Linked DNA regions of Homo sapiens. The protein of the gene in region 5 purifies or fractionates together with the protein of the main gene of each other region. This does not show direct contact. Each region holds a gene or a part of one and is shown on either strand. Other genes may lie near its edges. The genes, in order: TOP2B, TRPS1, WDR43, RREB1, GRHL1, ARID3B and KDM6A.

Region 1 (3,500 bases), on a different chromosome or scaffold from region 5:
AAGAAAAAGAAAAAAAAAAAACTGATAAATCACTTTTTGTAATTAAGAAAACCTAATTTGGAAGAAAATATATTAACTGTAGACTTTGTTTAAAAAAAAAAAAAAACCTACACTGATTCTATGGAAAATGTATTCCAGTCGCAATTTGAGACACTACAAATAAGGCCCCTCGTTAGCCAAGAGCAGGAGGAGCCCTAGGAAAGTGGCACCCAGATTGTGTGGCTTTTCCCACCTGAGTCTTCATGACTATATCTACCACAAGAACCACAGGGCAGCTCCTAGCAGGGAGTATAAACTTAGCCAGGTGTTCTAGGAACCACTTTTTTTCCTTGGCTTGGAGTTACATGGCACTTTCAATTCTACCAGGCAAACAGGTCAGATATCTGAGTACTATAGCTGCCTTTCTGCTGTAAACTATTGGAACTACAGAATTTAACTTGTGTAACATACGCAATTTGGAGTTAACATAGACAATCCCACAGAGGGATATGATGCATCCTCTTCTTGAAATGATATTTTATTGGAATTATATTTCGTAAGGGAGGCTAAAGGAAAGCTGAGGACTTGCTGGGGTCCCTGAAATCACACCACACAGGCAGTCTACCTATTCAACTTAGACAAGGCCAGTTCAGCTACTGAAGAAGGAAGCAAGTAGGATAGGTACCATGATAATCTAGCTTTTTGGTCATGCTAAACTCATTAGGTTAAATATGGGTGAACAGTTTGATGAAGGAAACGGGGTATGTTTCAGGAAGTAATACGGCTCCCAAGTTTTCAGGGTGTTTATAAGATGCTCATATGAAGATTATTTTTTAAAGGTGCTTTTTGATTGTTCTGTTGTTGTTATTTGAGATGGAGTCTCACTCTACCGTCCAGGCTGGAGTGCAGTGGTGCCATCTCAGCTCACTGCAACCTCTGCCTCCCAAGTTCAAGCGATTCTTGTGCCTCAGCTTCCTGAGTAGCTGGGACTACAGGCATGCATACGCCACCACACCAGGCTAATTTTTGTATTTTTAGTAGAGATGGGGTTTTGCCATGTTGGCCAGGCTGGTCTTAAACTCTTGACCTCAAGCAATCTGCCTGCCTCGACCTCCCAGAGTTCTGGGATTACAGGTGTGAGCCACTGCGCCCAGCCTGATTGTTTTTTTAAAAAAGAGAAATTATAGGGTCCATCTCAATGTGGGTTCCCCAGATTTGGGCCAATCTGCCTAATCCTAGAGTATGGATTCAAGTATAAGTATTTATTTGAGAGATAAAGGAGGGGGAGACAAAAATGAGACAATGAAGAGAAGGCAGCCAGTAATAGGTAAGTTACCAAGCCAATCATCACTCTAGGAGCTTAATTCCATAAGAAATTTTTGAGTCCCAGTGTGAAACACACATCCCACAGTTGGCTCACATGAGAGGCAAGGACACTGAGATATTTATAGACCAACTTTCCTCAATCTGCTAGTTAAAGGCAGCTGGGAGCAGGGGGGTGTTAATATTCCAGCACAGTGGCAAAGAGGAAGTCCTCAGGCAACGAAAGGCAGATATTGCCCAATATGCACTAAGTGGTAAGGGACATGGGTAGGTCACCCAGTGTGTTGGCTACAGAGACTCTTGTAAATAACCAGTTTCTCAATATGGTTCTACTGCATTCAGAATAAGCAGGACTTTTCAAAATTGTTGTTCTGCTACATTCAATACATGTGTCTGTAATGATGTTGTCTGTTGTGAATTTTTAAAATCCTTGAGGGAACAATCCATATTATTTACTTGCTGTCTTAAATAGCACACATCTCAATTAGATTTGTGGGGTTTTTTTTAAGTGTCATCCTTCAAACACAAAGCACAAATACTGACCTCTTTCAAAAAGACCACGGTACATATATCTTGGTACTAGTAAGAGATTCATTAATCAACTCAAAGTGTTTTGTGGCCAATCTAAGGCTGTGAAAAAGAGAGAAGCTGCATGACTCACATAGAAAAAGAGGACCTCAACTGAGCTGACCAATCCCTCCACATAAGGAGTTGAGTCATGATCAACATAGATAACAGAAGCAAGCTACTAGCAAGACAAAATTTTAATCTCCATTACAACCTAACCACAAGGGAGCTTTTGTAGAAAGCTATCTTTAGATAGTAATGCACGGGATTATTTTATAATTACAACAGCTTTAAAATTAAGTCTTACAGAAATTTTATTAACGCCCTCAGATGGCTAGAAAACGAGAGGTTCTCCTTATAAGCACTTATACTTCTTAATTGTTTTATGATAAAAAAATGCAAATAGTTTCAAATTAAATTACATTTCCTTTTACATTAACTATCTCTATCCAATGCTTAACTCAATCAAATATAAGTACATACCCTTTTTAGCAGCTACCGTTTTACTTGGAACTTTATCTGTCTGTTTCAGACCAAATGATGGTGAAAAAACAGAAGCAGAATCTTCTTCATTACTGTCAAATTTAGCTGAATCTAAAAATTGCAAAGCCTTCTTTTAGTAAAGAGATGTTATAAAGATCTCTCAGTAAACTTTGACTCTTTTAACTGATGACTTCCCTTTAGCTAGACAATTGATCTTATGTTACTATTTTGTGACCAAATAATCCACAATATACAAACAGCTAAAAATAAAATGTATCAGTTATACACCAAAAATGTTAACTATGTGGTGAAATAACACAGAAGTGCATAAAGTAGTAAAAATTAAAAGTCCCAAATGCTAAATATTTAAAACATAACTGACCAATTCAAAAATACATGCTGCCAATTTATTTTAAAATGAGATATGAAAATGTCCCACTGTATTATTTTAGTACCTACACAAATAATACTATTAACCATTTCAGGAATATCAGTAATAATGTTTAAATCTAAAAGAATAGTAAGTATTCCTATTTTTAAATAAATTTTTGAAGACTAATTTAAAAGGCAGACAGGCTTACCTTCAGTTTACTCTTGCACTCAAATTAGTGTAATGCGTTCTTCCCTAACACCATAGCACAAACTTTTAAAATAGCTACTTGGATGTAAATAAATATGTTTACACAACTCTTTTGACACACTGTCAAAAATGAGTACGTATACATATAGAATATGTACCAAATATGTCTAAATGTATAGATGTGTGTATTAAAAAATGATAGTGAATCAATTAAGTGACCTTAAAAATTCCATACACAAAAAAAATACGAAACAAGAAGTATACACACTGATTAAATTTGTTCTTATGACGGTTTTAATCTCTCAGGTAACAACCAATCTGCAATCACACTGGTGCCCTTACAGATTTAGAAAACTGTCGTATATACATTCACATTGCCATGAAAATCAAATTTCAAGCTTTCAAAATTTCATTATTTCTTTTCTCTCATTAAAACACTACACATACACTCACACCCATAAACACAGATAAGCATTTGCCTGTCCACCTAAATGCTTCCATAATGCCTATTTTGACCAATTAGTTAGGAATCACCTCAGAAAAAGTAAAGAAGCCTTATTATCTTGAG
Region 2 (3,500 bases), on a different chromosome or scaffold from region 5:
TTTTATGACACTTATTACTCTTGTAATCATCTAAGTGTCTCATCTTCCCTACTAAACTGTAAGTTCCATGAGGGCACTGACTATGTCTTCTCTTGTATATTCAATGCCTGGTACAATAGGATTTTTGAAATCAATTAATTAAAGAATGAATGCATACATGAAATAAAGATACATATCCTATGCTTATCTCTAGATATTATAAAAGATTAACTGGGAAAGTTAATGTTTATAAAGAGAATAGAGTGAAAGCAGAAGGAAAACACAAACTTCCCACATCCATTTAAGAATCTGGAATAACTCAAGCAGTTTTACCTGCTTGGAGGAGCAAGTCTACATCCAAAATCACACATAGTACAAAAATTCTCACCTTTAGATTACTGTTTGTATGCTAAACAAGGATGTTGCAGAATTGTTCAAAGCCAGAAGAATATATAATCTCATTTTAAAATAAAAATGAGCAACAGGTTCTCAAAATTTTTTTGCAGAATAGAGAATAGGATATATTTACAATAGCATCTTTCATTTAGCTCTGTCAAAAAAATATAGGATGTGGAGTCATATTTAGTAAGGATAAATAAATGGACTACGGTAAATTAGTAAACTCATCAGCATTATTAGAATCACTGTGAATTTAAAAAGACAATCAGTAAATGGTATAACACAAGTATGAAACATGAGCATACAGTCCAAAAGAAGGAACCAAATTAAAATCTACAGTGATCACAGCTGTAACTATATCACCTGCAAATCTGTGATGAACTTTTATGTGGTCTTCTCCTATAACTTCCCCAAGTCATTGGAATCACTCTCAACAATTCCCGGTTCAGCCCTCTTTCTATGGATTTTTTCTATTATTTTATTTGTATATTCCTCCCGACCCCACCCCCCATGCCTCACCTGTAGTGTCGGGAAATCTCTTCTTCCACTTGGGTAATAAAATCACATTTGGTACATGAGTGTTCTTTGCTTTCCTTGACAGACTGCTGCCCATCCGATCCTTGCAGGTGATTTGCTTCTTGTTTGACATCCGATGCTTGGGACTCATGCACACTTTCATAGTGAAAGAGGAGTACATCTACGTCAGGGGTGGTGAATGAACACTGATGGCACTGATGTTTGACTCGCGAGCTTCCAGCCGCCCCAGGAGACAAGTGCAGAAGCAAGAGTGCACAGTGGGAACAATTACTTTTTCTACAAGCAAACGGATAAGTAATTTCTCCAAGGTGCTTTTCTGGGCTGCAAAGTCCTCTGGGACAGAATGGACAGTGTTTAATGGTACACTTGTGAATGTTATGGAGCTGTTGATAATGACGGAGAAGTGGCCCCACTACAATTACATCAGGGCCATGGCTTTTGGAATATCGGAAGTCACAGAACTGACAATTATAGCTCGTTACCATATTATCCTCGGCTCCCTTGCTGGAGAAGTCCTTCTTTTTAGCCCCACTCGAGCTCTTGTCTGTCTTGGTCATTGTCTCTCCTTCTGAACTTTTGGCTAGATCATTCTGATTAATGACAGAGCCCCTGGAAAGCTTATCATTTAACTCTGGATTAAGGCCGCCTGACTGCACTGCTCCGTGCTGCTTGCCATAATGTTCTAGCAGTTTAAGTGAGCTAGATGACTCACAGCTGAAACTACAAAATTTACACCAGTAGTAACTGGTGGCCTCTGTACCATTTTGTCTAGAGGAATCGAGGGGCTTTATGGGCACTGAGTACCCAACAGGAGTGTCATCTCCTGCTTTGACTGTTATCTTGTCCTGCCATTTTCCCAAGTCTCCAGAATCACTGGATTGAAGTGCAGGGATGGACTTGTTAGAGTTTTTCTCTGAAGGTTTTGCAACCTCAGAGGAGGGGAGAGAAGCTTTTATTTTGTTTGGGTGAGTCTGAAGAAAATGTTGTTCTAATTCGGTGGATGAGTTGCCCATATAAGTGAAATTGCAGAATTTACAGCGGAAATACTTGGTGTTCCCTTGGCAATCTGGTGTTTTCCGTCCAATGCCAATGAATGTTCCACCTGAAGTCACCTGGAGAACAGAAGAAATGGACTTTACTTCCAAGGTGTCATTAATTCAATGGGCCCTCTGCAGGGGAGGGGGAGGGTACTGCCAAGTATTCCACATCAAAAAATACAATAGTACTCCTGCTTATTATGAAATCACTTGAATAATCAGAGCCAAATAAATTCACTCTTCATTTCTCAACAGCTACTCTTTGAGAGGCTCATTATGTTATACACTGTAGGCCAAAGTAACAGGTGAAGGTAAGTAATAAATGCACTATAATTTGAAAGACTTAATAATACATTTTTTAAACTAAGAAAACAATTTTCAACACAGTACATTTTACTATTGCCTCCTTCAAATCACATTCCTACAGAAGCATCCAAATCACATGGGATTTCTTTTCAAAAGGTGAAGCGTTACTGTCAAAACTAGAGGCACTTGCTCAAAAATTACTCAATGCAGATGTTCTCCAAGGAAATATTCTGTTCAGTTCCTACAGCAATGAGGCTGCAGGCAAAGATGAGGTCTCTGTTTTAGGTAAAATAAAGGTGCTCCAATGACCACCCAAAATGGCTTATAATTAAAGCACAGTGAAACAAACAAAAAGATGAATTGAGTATGCAGGAAATACTAGCAAAGAAGAACCGTGTAAATAAAGAATTTTGAATGTTTCCCCATCTAGAACAAACAAAAAAAAAGAAAAATCTTCCATGCCTTATTTGATTAAGGTTCTGTTTCATTGCAAAGGGCTCCCAACTTCTCACATGAGTAGGTCATGATGTCTGAATGGTAAAATAAAATAATTCCACCATAAAAAATCACTACAACTCTGCTTTCTTTCCCAAATTATGAAATTACATGGAATCAGGACTATGAAAGCCTTCAAAGGGCACTTTGCATAAAATCCTTCCTCCATTCTCAGTGTGCACCTCAATAGGCAGTACAATTAAGCCACCACTGAGCAGCCAAAATTCAGAGTTAAAATAGAGTTTTTTGAATGAAATACTCCAAAAAGGGAAAACAATTTCTCTTCCAACCACCAGGGAATTTTTAAATTTTCCCAGCAACCAGATGTAATATATTAAGCAAGTGGCATAATCATCTTCTGCCTTCTTCAACAGCTGTTCAAAAATGACACGTGTGATCGCTGTTCATATCCAAATCACTGCATGAGAAAAGTCTCAGGCATCTCAAAATCACGTAAAGGCTCTATTTGAAATGCAAATAATATTGCTGTAGTACACTGAGAGATATGTTTGTACCTCTATTGTACAGGACTAAGATTGAAGTATTCTTTTTGCTATTAAAAAGAGATGTGACCTTGATCAAATTACTTAATCTCTCTGGCCAATAGCTTCTTCAACTGGGGCAACCTCCAAATTTATGTCCAGTATTATAGTTCTAAGAAATGTGCATTAATATATAAACAACTCAACATTTACTGTACATTAAGATAGGATCTTACAGAAGTTTTCCACAGCCTTTAATCAAAGG
Region 3 (3,500 bases), about 19 Mb from region 5:
CATCTTCCTCTTCAACGTCCTCATCTTTTTCACTTTCACTCTCCTCCTCATCTTCATCCCAATTATCCTAGTCGAAATACCAACAAGGAAAGCATTCATGAAGGTCTCATTCTTACAGAGTATGAGGATATAAAGGCCGATGTATATACAGGGAACAAATCACTCACTTCAGAATCCTTATCTGCTATTTCATCATCAGACTCCTCTTCAGAAGACTCTGTAAGGGGAGAAAGAACCCAGCCTTAATTTTAGAACAAAACAGAGGGTACAGCCTGGAAATTAAGCAGAACCAGATTCCTGAATTTACTTTTAGAAATATTATTTATATTTAGCAATCATCCAACTAAGAAATAACATTATTTTATTATTTTTTTTTTTTGCAGGCTGGAGTGCAGTGGAGCAATCTTGGCTCACTGCAACCTCTGCCTCCCAGGTTCAAGCCTCAGGCTCCTGCCTCAGCCTCCTGAGTAGCCGCCACACCCAGCTAATTTTTGGTATAGACAGGGTTTCACCATGTTGCCCAGGCCGATCTCAAACTCCTGGACTCAAAGGATCCGCTCACGTCTGCCTCCCAAAGTGCTGGGATTATAGGCATGAGCCACCACACCTGGCTAATTTATTCTTACATGTATAAAAGTATATTCATTATATTATTCCTTCAAGATCTCACCGGTCCAAACCAACTAGCCAAACCCTTACAAAAATCTCATCTTTAAATACTAAGCCCTATCAGGGCCACCAAATAGCCCCAGTGGATGAGGAAAAATTCAACACAGAAAAGCTGGCTTATAAACGAAATGGAAGAATTAGCATTATTTAACCCATAAAGTACTAATAATGAAATATTAGCAACTGATATATTAGATGTATGATTGTTGGGGGAAAACATGCAAACGTTAAAACAAAAATTAACACAGCTAGATTATTTTCTAAGCACTAAGGAAGATATATCTCACAATGGAGAGGAAAAAACTGATAACAGGCACAATGTGGTTCTTAGTGTGCTGCAATATGAACGATCAGCATTGATGCAACCCTCCAAAAATAAAATCCAATCAAACCTTTAGGCCTCACATCCAGTTTAAAGGAACTGTAGCTTAGAGGAGCAAATTAAAAGAAACCAAAAGGAAGCAAATCCACAAACATAAGGTGGGGCATTCTGTGAAATACACTTCCCAGTCTCTTCACCAAGTCCATGTCATGAAAAAGGGAGTTCTTAAAGACTAAAAAGAGTCTTCAGAAACACAGTAGCCAGATTCAACCCCATGATGCAAAACTCGAGTCTAGTTTGGGAAAAACAGCTTTAAAGGATATTTTACGGATAACTGGAGAAAGATGAAGATAAACTGGGCATTGGATAAAACTAAGGAATTGATTTCATTAGGTGTGCTAATGTTATCCAATAATACAGAATGGGATTCCTATTTTTTTAAGATATTCTAACATTCTTCTTCTATCTACTTTTTCTTAAGAAAATAAATCATTATCTCCAGATGAAGTTCCCTTACATGCCCATCTCCCTAAGCCCATTCCCCAAAAGAAACCACTATTGTGAGCTTCTCATTCTCCAGTATGCTGTTATAACACATACATCATACTACCCATGAATTACACATGTACATATTCATGAAAGACATATGCAGCAGTTCCCCCAATATGTGTTCCTTTTCCCCAGTTTCAGTTTCCCCTGGCAACTGCAATCCAAAAATATTAAATGGAAAATGTACCAAATCCAGGATCCCTAAGTTTTAAATTGCGCCCTGTTATGTGCAGCGTGATGAAGTGCCGTGCTATCTGGCTCCGCCTGGCCGGAGAGGTAAATCATCCCTTTGTCCAGCTTCGCTGTCTACACTAGCCACCCGTTAGTCGTTTAGTAGCCACCTCAGTTATCAAATCGAATGTTGCAGTATCGCGGAGCTTATGTTCAAGCCACCCTTATTTTGCTTACTAATACAATTACACGATGCTACACAGAAGGTATCATTTTTTGACTTGGTTTTGTAATCAAACTTATGCGTGTTAACTCGATCTCAACTCCAGGCACTCTCACCAATGTAGTGTTATGCTAAAGGAATAAACCATTTTAAACATGCTCCCACTAATGAAGAATTATGTTGTTCACAAGTCTTTTTCTTAATTATAAAGGCTGCAATGAACATACTTATATAATCTCTACATATATGTTTTAAAGCTATGTTGTCAAGCCTTTTAGCCTTAAAATGCTTTCACATTCTTAAAAAACTGAGGTCTCCAAAAAGTTTTTGTTTATGTGGGAAAAGTCTATCTATATTTATCACATTCAAATTCAATTTTTAAATTTAAGAATATTTAATCTGTTTACAAATGCCCATCCATTACATGTTAACACAAATCAATTTAATGAAAAACAGTATTTCTGTGCTCTCTTCGGCAGCACATACACTAAAATTGAAAAATGGAATTTCCAAAACAACAACAAATTCTACTAAGTAGAATGGCACTATTAAAAACTTCTCATATCTGCTTCTCCACTCTATTTTTTGGATATGTTGTTTTATTTGAACTATATGAAGAAAATCTAGCCTCCCACAGATGACCGATTGAAAAGCGGAGGACATCATGAGCCGCTCAAAGAGTTCTGGGCATCCCCACAGGTCCTCTGTTCATACTTGGAGAAGTATTGGTCACTGGGATACACACAAGCACTTTGGGATCACTTTGGGACTGCACTTGATGAATGGAAGGATATGCAAATTGTCAACTTTGAGATTACAAAGTTGCTCTCTAAAAAGAATGCACATGTACTCCCACCACAGCATGAGCTCCCATTTCCCAAATCATGGCCAACACCTGACCATTTTCACTCTTTCAAATTTATCCATTTCTCACAATATGGAATGTGATGTGTGATGTGATAATGGTAAAATTTTTTGTTCCATATAAATTATCAGTGTTTCTAACAACTTACTGAGCAGGCTATCTTCTCCACAATGATACAATACACACCATCAATAAACACACCAAGAGTCCACAGAACTACGGGTTTTTCAGGGGTAGCTATTGCCAATCTATTGGTCTAGCTGTCTATTATTGCACATTAACTCTGTAACCCTACACTTCTATAATCAATTTGCTACTCAGGGTATTTGAGGATGATCTAAAATGTTCCCTTTTTGACATTTCCAGGTTTTGTTATCAAGATTATACTTGGCTCATAAAATGACTAAATTGCCAGTACATGACAAAAAGGACAGCCCAGTGTTGTGGGTCATGCTTCTATTCCCAGCACTTTGGGAAGCTGACGCGAGAAGACCGTTTTTGAGGCCACGGTGTACAAGATCAGCTTGGGCAACAAAGAGACCTCATCTCTACCTTTAAAAAAAGAAAATTGGCCAGGCATGGTGGCTCAACAGTCCCAGCTACTCTAGAGGCTGAAGCAGGATGATCGCTTGAGTGTAAGAGTTTGAGGCTGCAGTGAGCTATGATTGACCTCGAGCCACTGCACTCCAGCCTGAGCAACA
Region 4 (3,500 bases), on a different chromosome or scaffold from region 5:
GGATTTCATCTTGTATAAAAAATACCAAGAACTTCCACACACTATGTCATTTTCTTCTTTTTGCTTTTTTAAATTCATGTCAGGCTCAGTGGCTCATACCTCATACCTGTAATCTCAACACTTTGGGAGGCTGAGGTAGGAGGACTGCTCCATCCCAGGAGTTTAGGAATTTGAGACCAGCATGAGCAACATAGAGAGACCCTGTCTCCAAAAAAATAAAAAATAAAAATTCATTGTTTAAAAAGGAAATCTGGTGGGGCGCGGTGGCTCATGCCTGTAATCCCAGCACTCTGGGAGTCCAAGGTGGGCAGATCACCTGAGGTCAGGAGTTCAAGACCAGCCTGGCCAACATGGTGAAACCCCATCTCTACTAAAAAAAATACAAAAATTAGCTGGGTGTGGTGGTAGGCGCCTGTAATCCCAGCTACTCGGGAGGCTAAGAGAATCGCTTGAACCTGGGAGGCGGAGGTTGCAGTGAGCCAAGACTGCGCCATTGCACTCCAGCCTCGGTGACAAGAGTAAAACACTTCGTCTCAAAAAAAAAAAAAAAAAAAAAAAAAAAAAAAAAAAAACAGGAAACCTATTCACATGGTTCACCTTTGTGTTTCAGAACACCCACCCCATCTTCCTGGTTATCTCCCCTATTTCTGAAGACATATCTACCTCTTTTATGAGAAAATTAAGATTTTGATTTTGTATATTCAGAGAAATGTTTTGTTTTTTACACTGAAGTGTCAGAATAAAGGGAGCTCCCTTAAAACAGTGAAAATGATTATTTTTATAAATATGATCTAAAATCAACTATTACCACGTGTATACTGCACATACACAGACACATACAAACACATAAAGCAAGATTTATACCCTGTAGATTTCTGGCTTGGTATTCTGTTTTGAATCCTACGAGTAATGGAAAAAAGAGAAGCTAAATTATACACAGACCAACACTCCTATTAACTCATACCACTAATGAAACAAAACTCTAACTAAGCAGAGAAAATGGGCCCACACATTGGAGCTCTGAAATGATTTTGGTCTTTGATCTGTGTGCCCATCTCTCCTATTTAATGTAAACTTCAAATCAAGAGCCATGAAAAATGGTTATAATTAGTAAAGGCCCCAGTGTGACAGCTTTTAGTGCAACCAGGCATTAACAAGGAGTTTTTTTCACTTTTACATTAAGCTGAGCCAACTTTTATTTTAGAATTTCTGTAATTCAAAATTCTTTCCCACCAAAGAACTTAATTCTTTCCCACCTAGCACCACCTTCTGCATGATGGGTATGCTGAAATCGTTAGTTCATGTCTATTTCCTTCATTGAATTTGTAGCACTATTTAGGCCTTAGCTTCCAAATTACATGTGGCTATTCTCCAAAATCTTCAGAAACTCTCATTTTTGTATCAGAAATCAACACACAGTGGTGAGTGAGCACCAACTATGCAATCGTTCTAGGTGCAGGAGATGGGAAAATATTCTTGAAGTGAGAGAAACATGTTAAGAGATAAATTACAACAGACAAGACTTGACAGATGGGGGTAAAAGTTACTCACAACAGAAGAGCTAATTCTCCATAGAAGAGGTAGTATTTAAGCTGGGTCTTGAAAAAAAGAGTACAAAATTTTTATTGCTGAAGGAAGGGGATGGGGATGCAACAGAATGAACAATCCAGGCAACAGGAGGCAGTAAGAATCAATTCAGTGTGGCAGTGGGGTAGAAGAGAGTGACAAGAGCTGAGACTAGAAATTCAGCTTGGAAGCAGACGAAGTTCCTTGTATGCCAAGTTAAGGAGTTTGGATTTCTTCCTGTAGACAACAGAGAGCCAAGAGATGTTTTTAAGCAGGCAAACACCACGCACGGCTTTAGTTCTGATGATTCTGGCAGCAGAGTGGAGGATGAACTGCAGTAAGGAGAAACTGGTGGCAGGAAATTAACTTGGGAGGCGTTTGTGACTTGATGAGGGCCTTAGGTCAGAAACGATAGAACAGCCAATGCCAGGGCCAGACTGGAGTGTGGTTTTGCAGAGGGCCTGGTGACTGATCGAACATTGGGGCAGGACAGACATACGTCAGGACGGCAGTAAGACTCCTGGCCTAGAAGGCTGGGTGGATGGTGATCACCTTCCAGAAGGAAGGGAGAGGACTTTCATTTTTACAAGTACCTGCAGGGTAAGGTACTTGCAGGGTGATCAGGGTGACAAAAGGTTCAAGCTTGGGAGAAGTTGTAAATGGAGATATAGAGTTGGGAGTTGGCAGTTTATAGGTTAGACGAGAAGACAGAAAAGCACCAGAACGCAGAGTGCGTTCTGCAGGAACAGGACTCGTTACCACGTATGGGACTGCAAAGGTGGCTGCAGAGCAATGGCCCTGAGCACCATCAGTGCGACTGACACCAATGGGACACTGACTAACCGCTGGTTTAGATGTAAAAAGAGCTATCTTCAAGTATTGCACATGTCTATAAAGTGGGAGCCCAGGCCACTCTAGGGGTGACTCTGCCTACCACTGGCAGCCCTTCCTTTTCTGGAATTCGATCTCTGTCTCCCTGTTTTCTTCTCCCCTCTATGGTTTCCTTACCTCCTGTCTGTGTGATAGGCTGGGGGGTGGGGGGGAAGGCCAAGGGTCAGATCAGTTAACACTTGCTGGCTAAAAGATCACTCCTGACACTATATTAGACATTTCTGGTCTGAGGCCTGGGGTCCCTTAACATAAAAATAATCACCGCCTCCTACCCTGCATCCCCTTACTCCCTCCCTATCCCTCCCAACCACAGCAGCTGGCAGCCATCCACCCTCTCAAGAGGAGATGTATGGACAGAGCACCCGGCTCAGAAACACTGCCCTATAAAAACGGCAGACGGTTATGTAAGAATTTTGCAAAAACTTGAGAAAATAAAACAAGGGAGACTACGAATGCAAAAACATTAACTGTTAAGCAAGTAAGGGCTAGTTCAAACACTTAAAAAAAAAAAAAGGTATACTCCACATAACTTAGAACATGAAGGAGGCTGCAGATGACAGCACCAGAGCAAGTTTCCCAAATAACTGAAGAGGTGACTGGGAAAGCTGAGCCATCGACCACAACAGCTTCACAAAGCCAATGAATCTAGTTTGTTTTAGAAGTAGATGACTTCTAGAATTTTCATTTACTACGGGGTTTTCAAATATATTTAATGCCACTTAACATTTTCCTCAACCCCAAATTTTCTGTGAAACTTCGAACTTGCCAACCATGGTACCTCAGAGGCAAATAAGAGCTTACTTGCTTTATGGAATTTCAGATTTCTAAATATATCGCATGCAATACAGGCAGCGCACCCAGTGGACTTGTAGATGAGACCCAGGCCACGACTACTGTACCTTTCAAGCAGGCTTTCTCAACCTCAGCTCTGCTGACGTATGGGGGTCGTTCTGTGCACTCCAAGATGTGGAACAGCATCTTTGGGGTCTATGCACTAAAGGCCAGTAGCAGCTCCCCGCTGCCGCCCCCCCCCCCACCAGAAA
Region 5 (3,500 bases):
TATCACCTCTGGACAATTTAAATTAACATTTTGTTCGATTAGAAGAAGTTCAAAATACGAAGAAAAAGAATCACAGAGTTTTTGTAATAGAGGCAAGCTTAGACATATTTAATTCAATCTCATTATGTCACAATTAGGAAATTTAAGTCTAAAAAGTTTAAATAACAGTCCCAAGGTCACAAAACTACTCTGTAGAACCAAGATTAGAACTGAGTTCTCATTCTCCTGAAAAGGAAACAAGAGCATTACAAAAGGTAAAGAAAAAAAGTAACACTAATATTAAACAGCCATCTGTGATACAGACAATGGTTTTACATGAAAATTACATACATGGCAAGAACAGAGGTCTGTGTAACGCTACTTCAGTAAATACAGATTTGCACAGGTTTGCCACTACAGCCCACAGAGAGGTTAGTTACACGGTTTAGCACGTGACTAGGGAAGACTGTTAGGCAACTGCACAGCAGCAATATCTTTCTTTTACTTGTTTTTTTCTCTACCTCCATCATCTCCAAATAATAATCAGAATCTTTTAAAGAAGATATTACCCCTTAAAGCAATTGCAGACTGAACAGTGGGGACATTCTCAGGTTAGCCAGCTACATGGCTTCTGGCCCTAGTGTCCTGTGGAAAGCCACCACGTGGGCACATGTCCCATTACTGCATGGGAGCAATGGTGAGAGCACTGGTTCCAGGAGGCCGAGGACAGTGTTTGGAACAGATCAGTAGCTGGCATAAAAATTCAAATGCTTTCGGCAGGAAGCTGATCACTGCCAAAAATAATTGGATTTAGAAAACTGGATGGCTGCACCTCTGGGAATAAAAGCGGGCTCTTGAGCTGCTTACCTATGTCAATGCATCTTTGTTTAGCGGTGTGCTGCCGGGAGTGCCAGTACTTCCAATGCCTTAACTGATCTTCTCTGCTTTTGTCTTCAGCAAAAACCACCATGATCACACTCTGTGAAAGAGAATGCATTACAACATAAAGACACTAAAGGGTGAGTATGTTTTGGAAAACGTATTTAGTACTATATTTTACAGTGAAGGCTTAAAGCTGCAATTTCAGGCGGTCATTCAGAGCTGCTTCAGACCTGGAAATGTTAGGCTCTGACTAGCTTTCCTAGAGAACAGGACTAAGAGCAGAACTTACTCGAACTTTGCTGATGGGATGATGGATTCCTTCACTGCTGCTCACCTCCTTCAAGGTGATGGGATAGAACTGGCCTTTGTTCAGGTACGTCATGGTACTGTCTCCTGGCTTCTGTCGAAGTGATTTTGAAGCTTCTAGGGTATATTCAAAGTTGTTCCTAAAGGACAAAAAAAGTCACAGGTCTCTAAATCTACTCTCGTGGAAGCTTGCTATACATCATATTATAAATAGCATTTGCTATCTTTTTCACTTAAAGAAAATCTGAAACAAAAGTACTCAGCAGCTAAAAATTCTCAAGTCTCTCAGAGGTGGAAGTACAAATTGCCGATTAAAAATTCTATGATGTGATGGATGTCAGTAATCGGACATCCTGAGTTTGAGGGCTCGAGATATTAAAGATACTGATAGGTGGAAAGGACTTTGGAAGGAACTTCTCACAAGACATGCTGCCAATCTGATATTTATCCAGCAGAGGTTTCAGACAGGTGGCTGGTGTTCCTCTGACTAAATTCCTTTTGGCCTATATAGCATTTTTTTGTTGTTCCTACTTGTAATTTAAATGTCTTTAATAGGCAGGCACTCCACAATTCTCGACATTACCTATTACCTAACACTACCACTCATATATGCCCCTAAAGTTGTTTAAGAACCTTCCCAGGCCACGGCTCAGCAGATTACACCTATTTTTGTAACTAAAGTTTTATTAGCACATAGCCACATCATTTGTTTACACATTACCTATGGCTGCTTTTGCACAATGGCAGACCGGGGTAGTTGCAAAAATATACAGAGGTTGTATGGCCCACAAAGCCTGAAATATTTACTCTCTGAGTCTTTACAGAAAAAGTTAGCTGACCCCTATCCTAAACCCTAAAGGTATTTCCATTTGGGACTCCTGCATCTTGAGGCAGATCTATAAGGGAAGTCTCAATTCCCATAAAATCTTAGACACTTTTAAAACTGTAAAATATAACACATGTAAAAAACACATAAAACAAAATATGAGTTCCTAATTAACTTGGAAAATATTCATACTCCCAGAGTGAGATACAATTTTGTGAGGTCAAAAGAAAGTTGTCAGCTCAGAAAAAAGTTGACTTCATTTATTTTATCATTAGTGAGGCTGATTTTAAAAAAAAAAAGCTTTTATCACTTGATATTACTCCTAAATTCTCACCTAATTATATATATTTGGCAACAGAAAGGACCTCAGAGACCTAATTTAATCCCCTCATCTCTCCTATTAGATTCCATTCTACTACCATCACATAAAGAATCCAAAAGAAAGAAAAAGCACCAACACCAAGAATTAAGGAAACTTGAAACATAGTTCAAAGAGTTCAAAATTAAAAGCACTGAAGCAGATGTCCTCTACCCAAGACTGTACCACAGTAAAAGTAGTAAGATAAGGGGAAAGCCTGCTAAAGCCACCTTTGATTTATCAAGTTAACAAGAAAGGAATAAGTTATAAAAGCTGCAAATTAAAAATCAAATTAAAAGACATCTATTACCCAGAAACACTGTCAAAAACATAGTCCTCTGAATTCATGCCAGGCATCCGCAGACTGAGATCCGAGGGGAAGAAAACCTGAAATATCAATGTGATAAGCCACAACTATTTAACTGGTTATCATGCTTACTAAAGACCAAGCTCTGGTACCGCATAAAAGTATGTGGCTTACAGCAACCCACTATCCTTTCCATATTTATTTTTGAGTAAAAATTTTGATTCTACAAATACTTAAAAAATTAAAACAGAGAAAATATCCACTTTTATATGCCACTCAAGTAAATTACAACAAGCTGTGTAGGTACTCCCACTAAGTGCTTCTGACTCACGACCCCCTTTTCTGTCTTTCACACACATCCCAACTCTGTTCAAACACTAGGACCTGCAACCAAAATTTCATGACTTTTAAAAGTCACCCTATCATTATACCAAGTTAAGACACAGCATCAAGTTCACACCACAGCTGAAGAGATGTGGTGCATTTTCTCAGGAAAGGCTAACATTCTGCCCCTAACTCCATACGCAGAGATGGATGCTCTTTACCCCACCAAGTCACTAAGTATGGTTTCTAACACCTTTAGTCCCTAACTTTTAGCTGAGTGAGGTATTCATCACCATAAAACCCCCAGAACTATTTGGAATTAATTTGTAAACCTCACACAATGCATTTGTGCTCTCCCTGACTACATTACCAACCAAGAAACACCAAGCAAAGATATAATAACTCATTTTATATGAGCTCCAGGGAGCTTGTTTGGCACTGGGAGAAGTGCTGAAAACAGACTAGGAGAATCTACCTGTGGTCAACAGAAGATTATGTATGGGGTTCTCTTTCTCCAG
Region 6 (3,500 bases), on a different chromosome or scaffold from region 5:
CCCATCTGTTGCAGTCAATTCACCCAAACATGTTAACAAGCAAGAGATACAGCACAAAGCAGCAGTTATGGCCCGTCCCTGTCTCCCACTGGACAGCCATTTTATCACCTGCAGCTGCGGTCATTCGGGGCGGCCTGCTGTGTGCTGCATCCCTCAGAGCTGTCTGCTTCCTCTGTGGGCACAGCCTGCTGTGTCAAAGCTGCTGGCCCCTCTCACAGCCCACCTGGGTGTCTCCGGGCCTTTCAAACTCAGGCTATTTTCTTTCGTTTCTTTCTTTCTTTCTTCCTTGCATTTCCCTTTCCCTTTCCTTCTTTCTTTTGTTTTTTGAGACAAGGTCTCACTCTGTTGCCCAGGTTGTAGTGCAATGGCATGAACTCAGCTCACTGTAGCCTTGACCTTCCAAGCTCAAGTGATCCTCCCACCTCAGCCTCCAAAGTAGCTGAGACCACAGGCGCATGCCACCACACTCAGCTAATTAAAAAAAAATGTTTTTTTTGTAGAGACAGGGTCTCACTATGTTGTCCAGGCTAACTCAGGCTATTTCCAGTGACTCCTGTGATATCTACTGCTTACCTTTCATATTAGCTATGGAGGCCAAGTCCCTGACCTGCTGCTGAGGTCTATGAGGCTTTTCCTTGGTCCCAACTAGCAAGATCTGCCTCCTGTGTCCCCCAGACACTCCACAAGTGACAAGTCACAAATGTCTAAGGGCCCTTGTTCTCACCATTCTGTTAAGAACAAAGACAGCCGGGCTCGGTGGCTCATGCCTGTAATCCTAACACTTTAGGAGGCCGACGCGGGCGGATTACCTGAGGTTGGGAGCTCAAAACCAGCCTGGCCAACATGGTGAAATCCTGTCTCTACTAAAAATACAAAAAATTAGCCAGGTGCAATGGTACATGCCTGTAATCCCAGCTACTTGGGAGGCTGAGGCAGGAGAATAGCTTGAACCCAGGAGGTGGAGGTTGCAGTGAGCCGAGATGGTGCCACTACACTCCAGCCTGGGCTACAGAGGGAGACTTTGCTTAAAACAAAAAAAACAAAAAAAAACAAAAAAAAGACAGGCCAGGTGCGGTGGCTCATGTCTGTAATTCCAGTACTTTGGGAGTCGGAGGCAGGCGGATCACTCGAGGCCAGGAGTTTGAGACCAGCCTGGCCAACATGGTGAAACTGTTTTTACTAAAAAATATAAAAATTAGCCAGGCATGGTGGTGCATGGCTGTAATCTCAGCTACTTGGGAGGCTGAGGCACGAGAATCACTTGAACCCGGGATGGGAAGGTTGCGGTAAGCTGAGATCGACCACTGAACTCCAGACTGGGACTCTGTCTCAAAAAAAGGAACAAAGACAGCAAGCCTCACATGATTAAAACTGTAATCTGAGGCCCAGCACGGTGTGGTGGTTCATGCCTGTAATCCCAGCACTTTGGGAGGCTCAGGCAGTTGGATCACTTGAGCCCAGGAATTTGCTACCAGCCTGGGCAACATAAGGGCCTCGTCTCCACACACACACACACAAAAAAACAGAAAAATTAGCTGAGTGTGGTGGTGCACACCTGTAGGCCCAGATTCTCAGGAGGCTGAGGTGGGAGGATCACCTGAGCCTGGGGAGGTCAAGGGTGCGATGAGCCATGATTGCGCCACTACACTCCAGCTTGGGCAATAGAGTGAGACCCTGTCTCAAAAATAAATAAAATAATTAATTAAAATAAAAGTGCAATCTGCTCCCACCCCTCTTTTAAAATTTTCTTCTTCTTTTTTATTTCTGAGATGGAGTTTCGCTCGTCACCCAGGCTGGAGTGCAATGGTGCGATCTTGGCTCACTGCAACCTCCGCCTCCCGGGTTCAAGTGATTCTCCTGACTCAGCCTCCTGGGTAGCTGGGATTACATCTTCTTTTTTTTTTTTTTAAATTACAGGGATGGGGTCTTGTTACGTTGCCCAGGCTGATCTCAAACTCATGGTCTCAAGTGATCCTCCCACCTAGGCCTCCCAAAGTGCTGGAATTATAGGCATGAGCCACCATGCCCCACTCCCAACCCTCCTGAACCACTCACTCTAGTTCGGACTACCAGATAAGAGTTTTCTAGAAAGGAGATCGCTGGGAATAACAACCTCTACACTATCTTCCTGCCTCAGTCTCTCCTCTCTAGCCCAACTATACACTGCCACGGCAAGTTTCCTGAAAGCCAATATTTTGCCTTCAATAACTCAGCTATATCTACAGACTGAAGCGCTTTTTGGGCAAACATGGCTCTTCAGAGTCTCATGCCAGCTGACCCATCCAGGATGGCCCCTGGCTCTGGGCCATCAACAAGGGTTCTTCCAGCTACACCAGGGCCACATGTGTCACAGCATTTTTTCCTCCACCTCCATGGTTGGGTCTGATACACTAGAGCCACAGCTCTTCTCAGAGCCTTTCTCTGCACTGCAGGCCAGGGTGAGGCCCCAGCACTCACTCCTTTGGCACTCAGTCACAGGAAACAATGCTACCTAACACGGCTTGCTCTCATGTACCTGACTGGAGGTAAGATGATTTTCATAAAAAGTTTTTTTTTTTTTGAGACAGGGTCTCACTTTTTGGCCAGGCTGGAGGGCAGTGGCGCAATGTTGGCCTCCATGACGGCCCCCAAGTCCCCGGCTCGAGCAATTTGCCCACCTCAGCCTCCCAAGTAGCTTGGGACTACAGGCATGCATCACTATGCCTGGCTAATTTTGTTTTCATTTTTTGTAGAGAGAAGGTCTCACTATGTTACTGAGACTCACCTGAGCCTCCCACCTCAGCCTCCCACAGTGGTGGGATTACAGGCGTGAGCCACCACACTCAGCTAAGAGTTTTTCTTGCAGAGGATATTTTACATCTTTATTCTCTTTCTCATCTTTCCATGCCAGAGGGTCTCAACGGGACAATTTTGCCCTCCAGGGGACATTTATGACATCTAGAGACATTTTTGGTTGTTGTGACTGAGGGGCTGATATTGGTATCTAGTGGATAGAGGCCATGGATACTGCTAAACGTCCTACAGTAACCAGGTGCGGTGGCTCATACCTGTAATCCCAGCACTCTGAAAAGCCGAGGTGGGAGGATCACTTGAGGTCAGGAGTTCAATACCAGCCTGGGCAACATAGTGAGACCTCATTTCTACAGAACAAAAAAGTTAGCCAGGCATGGTGGTGCCTACCTATAGTCCCAGCTACTCAGGAGGCTGAAACAGGAGAAAGGCTTCAGCTCAGCACTTTGAGGCTGTAGTGAGCTATGATCGCACCACTGCACTCCAGCTGAGGCAACAGAGTGAGACCCTGTCTCAAAATTAAAAACAAAATCCTACAGTGCACAGGACAGTCTCCACAACAAGGACTACCCATCCCAAAGTCAACAGTGCTGAGGCTGAGAAACCTTTTATTAAAGTAACAAGTGGCAGACAGAACCGTTTCCCTTCTGTTGGTAATGCCAGCAAACAGTGAAATACCTGACGTAAGTGCTGAAGACAGGACAAAGATT
Region 7 (3,500 bases), on a different chromosome or scaffold from region 5:
CTGAGACAGGAGAATTGCTTGAGCCTGGGAGGCAGAGGTTGCAGTGAGCCGAGATAGCATCGCTGCACTCAGCCTGGGTGACAGCTGACATAGTGAGACCCTGCCTCAAAAAAAAAAAAAAACTTAACTGCTCCAAAATGTGGAGAACCGTTGAAAACAGGAGTTCATTAAACTACCTTCAATACCTGTACATACTTTAAATGATGCATAATAAAAAGTTTTAAATGTTTTAATTACTCCATCATTTCAGAGCTCACAGCACTTTGCATGTATCTTTATTATTACACTTAATACATCATATGATCACTCAGTCTGTCAGCCTCTCCCAACAGACTGACTGCAGGACAGAGGCCAGGTCTTATTGGTTGCCCCAGAACCTGACACAATCCCTCACCCACAGCAGCTCAACAAATGTTTCACCAATCAATCAAGCAAAGCAAAAGCTTTTGTAGTTCTCATTCTGATATTTGAAATTCAGAAACCTAAAATATTTATTTAACTACTGTATCTTGAAAACAAATTTTCCCTAAAAATAAAAACTATCCAGACTCAAGCAACTATGATTCATAAAGTTCTCAGGAAAAATTACCTCTTGTGTCACATATTATGTAATATTCTATCACAGAACACTATAGCAGTATCAAAATACAAACAAAATTCACATCACATACTCAGCTAAACATGTTTTCTACTCATTTTCCAAGCAATTATTTCTTAACTTCCATACAGCAAAAAACAAGGTCCACAGATATTTGAGATTAAGAAATTATTTTACATGTAATAAGGGCATCACGGTTATGTTTCAGAAACAAACATCTATGGATTAAATGCTGTGACTGATTGCTGAGATGTGCTTCAAAATAACATGAGTGAGGGGCAAAATATATATAGATGAAACAGGACTGGTCATGAGTTGCAAACTATTAAAGCTGGGTGATGGTTGATTTGCAATACTTTCTGAAAACACTGAAAATTTTTCCTAATAAACTTTTTTTTCAAAAAGAGAGAAAAATCTAATGAACACGTAATAAATTTGTAGTTTAAAAATAACCCTTTGTCTAAAACAATTTCTTCCACTGTTCTAAACTAAAATGAATTAGATGACCTTATATAATACCCTTAAGTATAACCCCAACTTTCTTCCTGAGAATAAACTTAGCAGCAGCATCTTCTATTTATTCTAACAAAGGCAAAATACTCAGCCAGGCATGGTGGCTCACGCTTGTAATCCCAGCACTTCAGGAGGCCGACGCGGGGGGATCAACTGAGGTCAGGAGTTGGAGACCAGCCTGGCGAACACAGTGAAACCCCATCTCTACTAATAATACAAAAATTAGCTAGGCGTGGTGGTGCACACCTGTAATGTCAGCTACTCAGGAGGCTGAGGAAGGAGAATCGCTCGAACCCTGGAGACGGAGGTTGCAGTGAGTCGAGATTGCGACATTGCACTGCAGCCTGGGCAACAAAAGTGAAATGCCATCTCAAAAAAAAAAAAAAGACAAAATAGTACCACAGAGAAAATTACAAAAAGCATACAAGAATACATTCACAATGGAACACCACCAACAGTTTTAATAATATACAGAAGTAAACAAATGATGGAATATAAGGAAGAAATAGGTAAGAGAAAAAATAATAAAAGCTTATAGAAGAAAGTTGCAAGCAGTCTACAAATTAGCTCAGAAACCTAAAACTGTCTAACAAGGGATTACTCCCACCCTTCCAGGTGACAGTTTTTTTGTTGTTTTTTGTTTTTGAGATGGTGTCTTGCTCTGTCGCCAGGCTGGAGTTCAGTGGCACGATCTCGGCTCACTGCAATCTCCATCTCCTGGGTTCAAGCAATATTCTCCTGCCTCAGCCTCTCGAGTAGCTGGGATTACAGGTACGCGCCATCACACCCAGATAATTTTTGTATTTTTAGTAGAGACGGGGTTTCACCATGTTAGCCAGGCTGGTCTCGAGCTCCTGACCTCGTGATGCCCGCCTCGGCCTCCCAAAGTGCTGGGATTACAGGCATGCGCCACCGCGCCCGGCCCAGGTTACAGTTCTTAATCAGGTCCCAAGTATCAGCCTGTGCCAAATCAGACTCAAAATAAAGTCAGCAATGAAATGCTAAAGATCAAAATGAAGAATGAGCGCAGTGACTGTCACAAAGCCATCTAAAACACAAAGAAATAGGACCTAATTGGGTACATCTCTACTCCATTCACTCCTACCCTCACTGAAGGAACATCAAGTTCAAAAGTATCCCAACTTCAGACTGTAATTAAAATGCAAGAAAGGCCTTTACAAGTATCTCTTCTAACTATAGACATGGTAGTTTAAACCCATTTTTAGTCAACCAAAATATAACATTCTGGTGTACTATCAGAGTACTTTTTTTTGTTTGTTTGTTTGAGATGGAGACATGCTCTGTTGCCCAGGCTGGAGTGCAGTGGCGCGATCTCGGCTCACTGCAACCTCCGCCTCCTTGGTTCAAACAATTCTCCTGCCTCAGCCTCCCAAGTAGCTGGGATTACAGGCGCCCACCACCACGCCTGGCTAATTTTTTGTGTTTTTAGTGGAGATGAGGTTTTGCCACTTTGGCCAGGCTGGTCTCGAACTCCTGACCTCAGTTGATCCATCCGCCTCAGTCTCCCAAAGTGCTGGGATTACAGGCACGAGCCACCACGCCTGGCCTTATTGTATTATTTTTAAGGTAATATATGTCTACGGTGTTAAAAAAAAAAAAAAAAGCAGTACAGAAATCTATAAAACAGTTTAAAATCTCCCCTCCTTCTCACCCCAAAAGTGTCTTGTACTCCAAGATGACCATTAAGTCATCCTGAGTGTCCTTCCAAACTCTGTCAGAGAATTTAAATTGACCCATGAACACTCATTTAAGAATCTCAAGTTAAGAACTCATAACAAGGTAAATATTACTACAAAATGAAATCAAAGAAGGACAGAACACACAGCAGATCATCCTTTGAACATCTGCTAAAAGCTAAAATGTGATTTTTTTTTTTTTTTTTTGAGATGAAGTCTCGCTCTGTCGCCCAGGCTGGAGTGCAGTGGCACCATCTCAGCTCACTGCAACCTCTGCCTCCCAGGTTCAAGCAATTCTCCTGTCTCAGCCTCCCAAGTAGCTGGGACTACAGGTGCACGCCACCACGCCCGGCTAATTTTTATATTTTTAGTAGAGACGTGGTTTCACCATATTGGTCAGGCTGGTCTCAAACTCCTGACCTCAAGTGATCCGCCCACCTCAGCCTCCCAAAGTGCTGGGACTACAGGTGTGAGCCACCACACCCAGCCTTAAAATGTGATTTTTAAATCATGTTTTCCTAAACAAAATTATAAGATGCCTTGCTAACATCTAAATCAAGAAATACCATCTCCAAGAAACACAATCAACAAACAATCCCCATCTTTAAGAGCCATTCTAACTTGTGAATTGTTAAATTTACCTTTCTCATAAACTTTCAGAATATTTCACATTTTTCTTCTCCCAAAGATGG

Evidence for each region.
Region 1: the proteins of GRHL1 (region 5) and TOP2B purify together in Homo sapiens (co-immunoprecipitation; one large-scale study listed by IntAct). This does not show direct contact.
Region 2: the proteins of GRHL1 (region 5) and TRPS1 purify together in Homo sapiens (co-immunoprecipitation; one large-scale study listed by IntAct). This does not show direct contact.
Region 3: the proteins of GRHL1 (region 5) and WDR43 purify together in Homo sapiens (co-immunoprecipitation; one large-scale study listed by IntAct). This does not show direct contact.
Region 4: the proteins of GRHL1 (region 5) and RREB1 purify together in Homo sapiens (co-immunoprecipitation; one large-scale study listed by IntAct). This does not show direct contact.
Region 6: the proteins of GRHL1 (region 5) and ARID3B purify together in Homo sapiens (co-immunoprecipitation; one large-scale study listed by IntAct). This does not show direct contact.
Region 7: the proteins of GRHL1 (region 5) and KDM6A purify together in Homo sapiens (co-immunoprecipitation; one large-scale study listed by IntAct). This does not show direct contact.

What each region holds. Positions count from the first base shown.
Region 1 is NC_000003.12:25,602,408-25,605,907, forward strand, and holds part of TOP2B (DNA topoisomerase 2-beta), read right to left. Parts: intron 2,464-3,500; coding exon 2,353-2,463; intron 1-2,352. UniProt on the Homo sapiens protein: Key decatenating enzyme that alters DNA topology by binding to two double-stranded DNA molecules, generating a double-stranded break in one of the strands, passing the intact strand through the broken strand, and religating the broken strand.
Region 2 is NC_000008.11:115,602,976-115,606,475, forward strand, and holds part of TRPS1 (zinc finger transcription factor Trps1), read right to left. Parts: intron 2,028-3,500; coding exon 898-2,027; intron 1-897. UniProt on the Homo sapiens protein: Transcriptional repressor. Binds specifically to GATA sequences and represses expression of GATA-regulated genes at selected sites and stages in vertebrate development. Regulates chondrocyte proliferation and differentiation.
Region 3 is NC_000002.12:28,943,167-28,946,666, reverse strand, and holds part of WDR43 (WD repeat-containing protein 43), read right to left. Parts: intron 218-3,500; coding exon 168-217; intron 68-167; coding exon 1-67. UniProt on the Homo sapiens protein: Ribosome biogenesis factor that coordinates hyperactive transcription and ribogenesis. Part of the small subunit (SSU) processome, first precursor of the small eukaryotic ribosomal subunit.
Region 4 is NC_000006.12:7,114,461-7,117,960, reverse strand, and holds part of RREB1 (ras-responsive element-binding protein 1), read right to left. Parts: intron 1-3,500.
Region 5 is NC_000002.12:9,961,693-9,965,192, reverse strand, and holds part of GRHL1 (grainyhead-like protein 1 homolog), read right to left. Parts: intron 2,739-3,500; coding exon 2,662-2,738; intron 1,308-2,661; coding exon 1,151-1,307; intron 959-1,150; coding exon 847-958; intron 1-846. UniProt on the Homo sapiens protein: Transcription factor involved in epithelial development. Binds directly to the consensus DNA sequence 5'-AACCGGTT-3'.
Region 6 is NC_000015.10:74,575,720-74,579,219, reverse strand, and holds part of ARID3B (AT-rich interactive domain-containing protein 3B), read right to left. Parts: intron 1-3,500. UniProt on the Homo sapiens protein: Transcription factor which may be involved in neuroblastoma growth and malignant transformation. Favors nuclear targeting of ARID3A.
Region 7 is NC_000023.11:44,879,688-44,883,187, reverse strand, and holds part of KDM6A (lysine-specific demethylase 6A), read right to left. Parts: intron 1-3,500. UniProt on the Homo sapiens protein: Histone demethylase that specifically demethylates 'Lys-27' of histone H3, thereby playing a central role in histone code. Demethylates trimethylated and dimethylated but not monomethylated H3 'Lys-27'.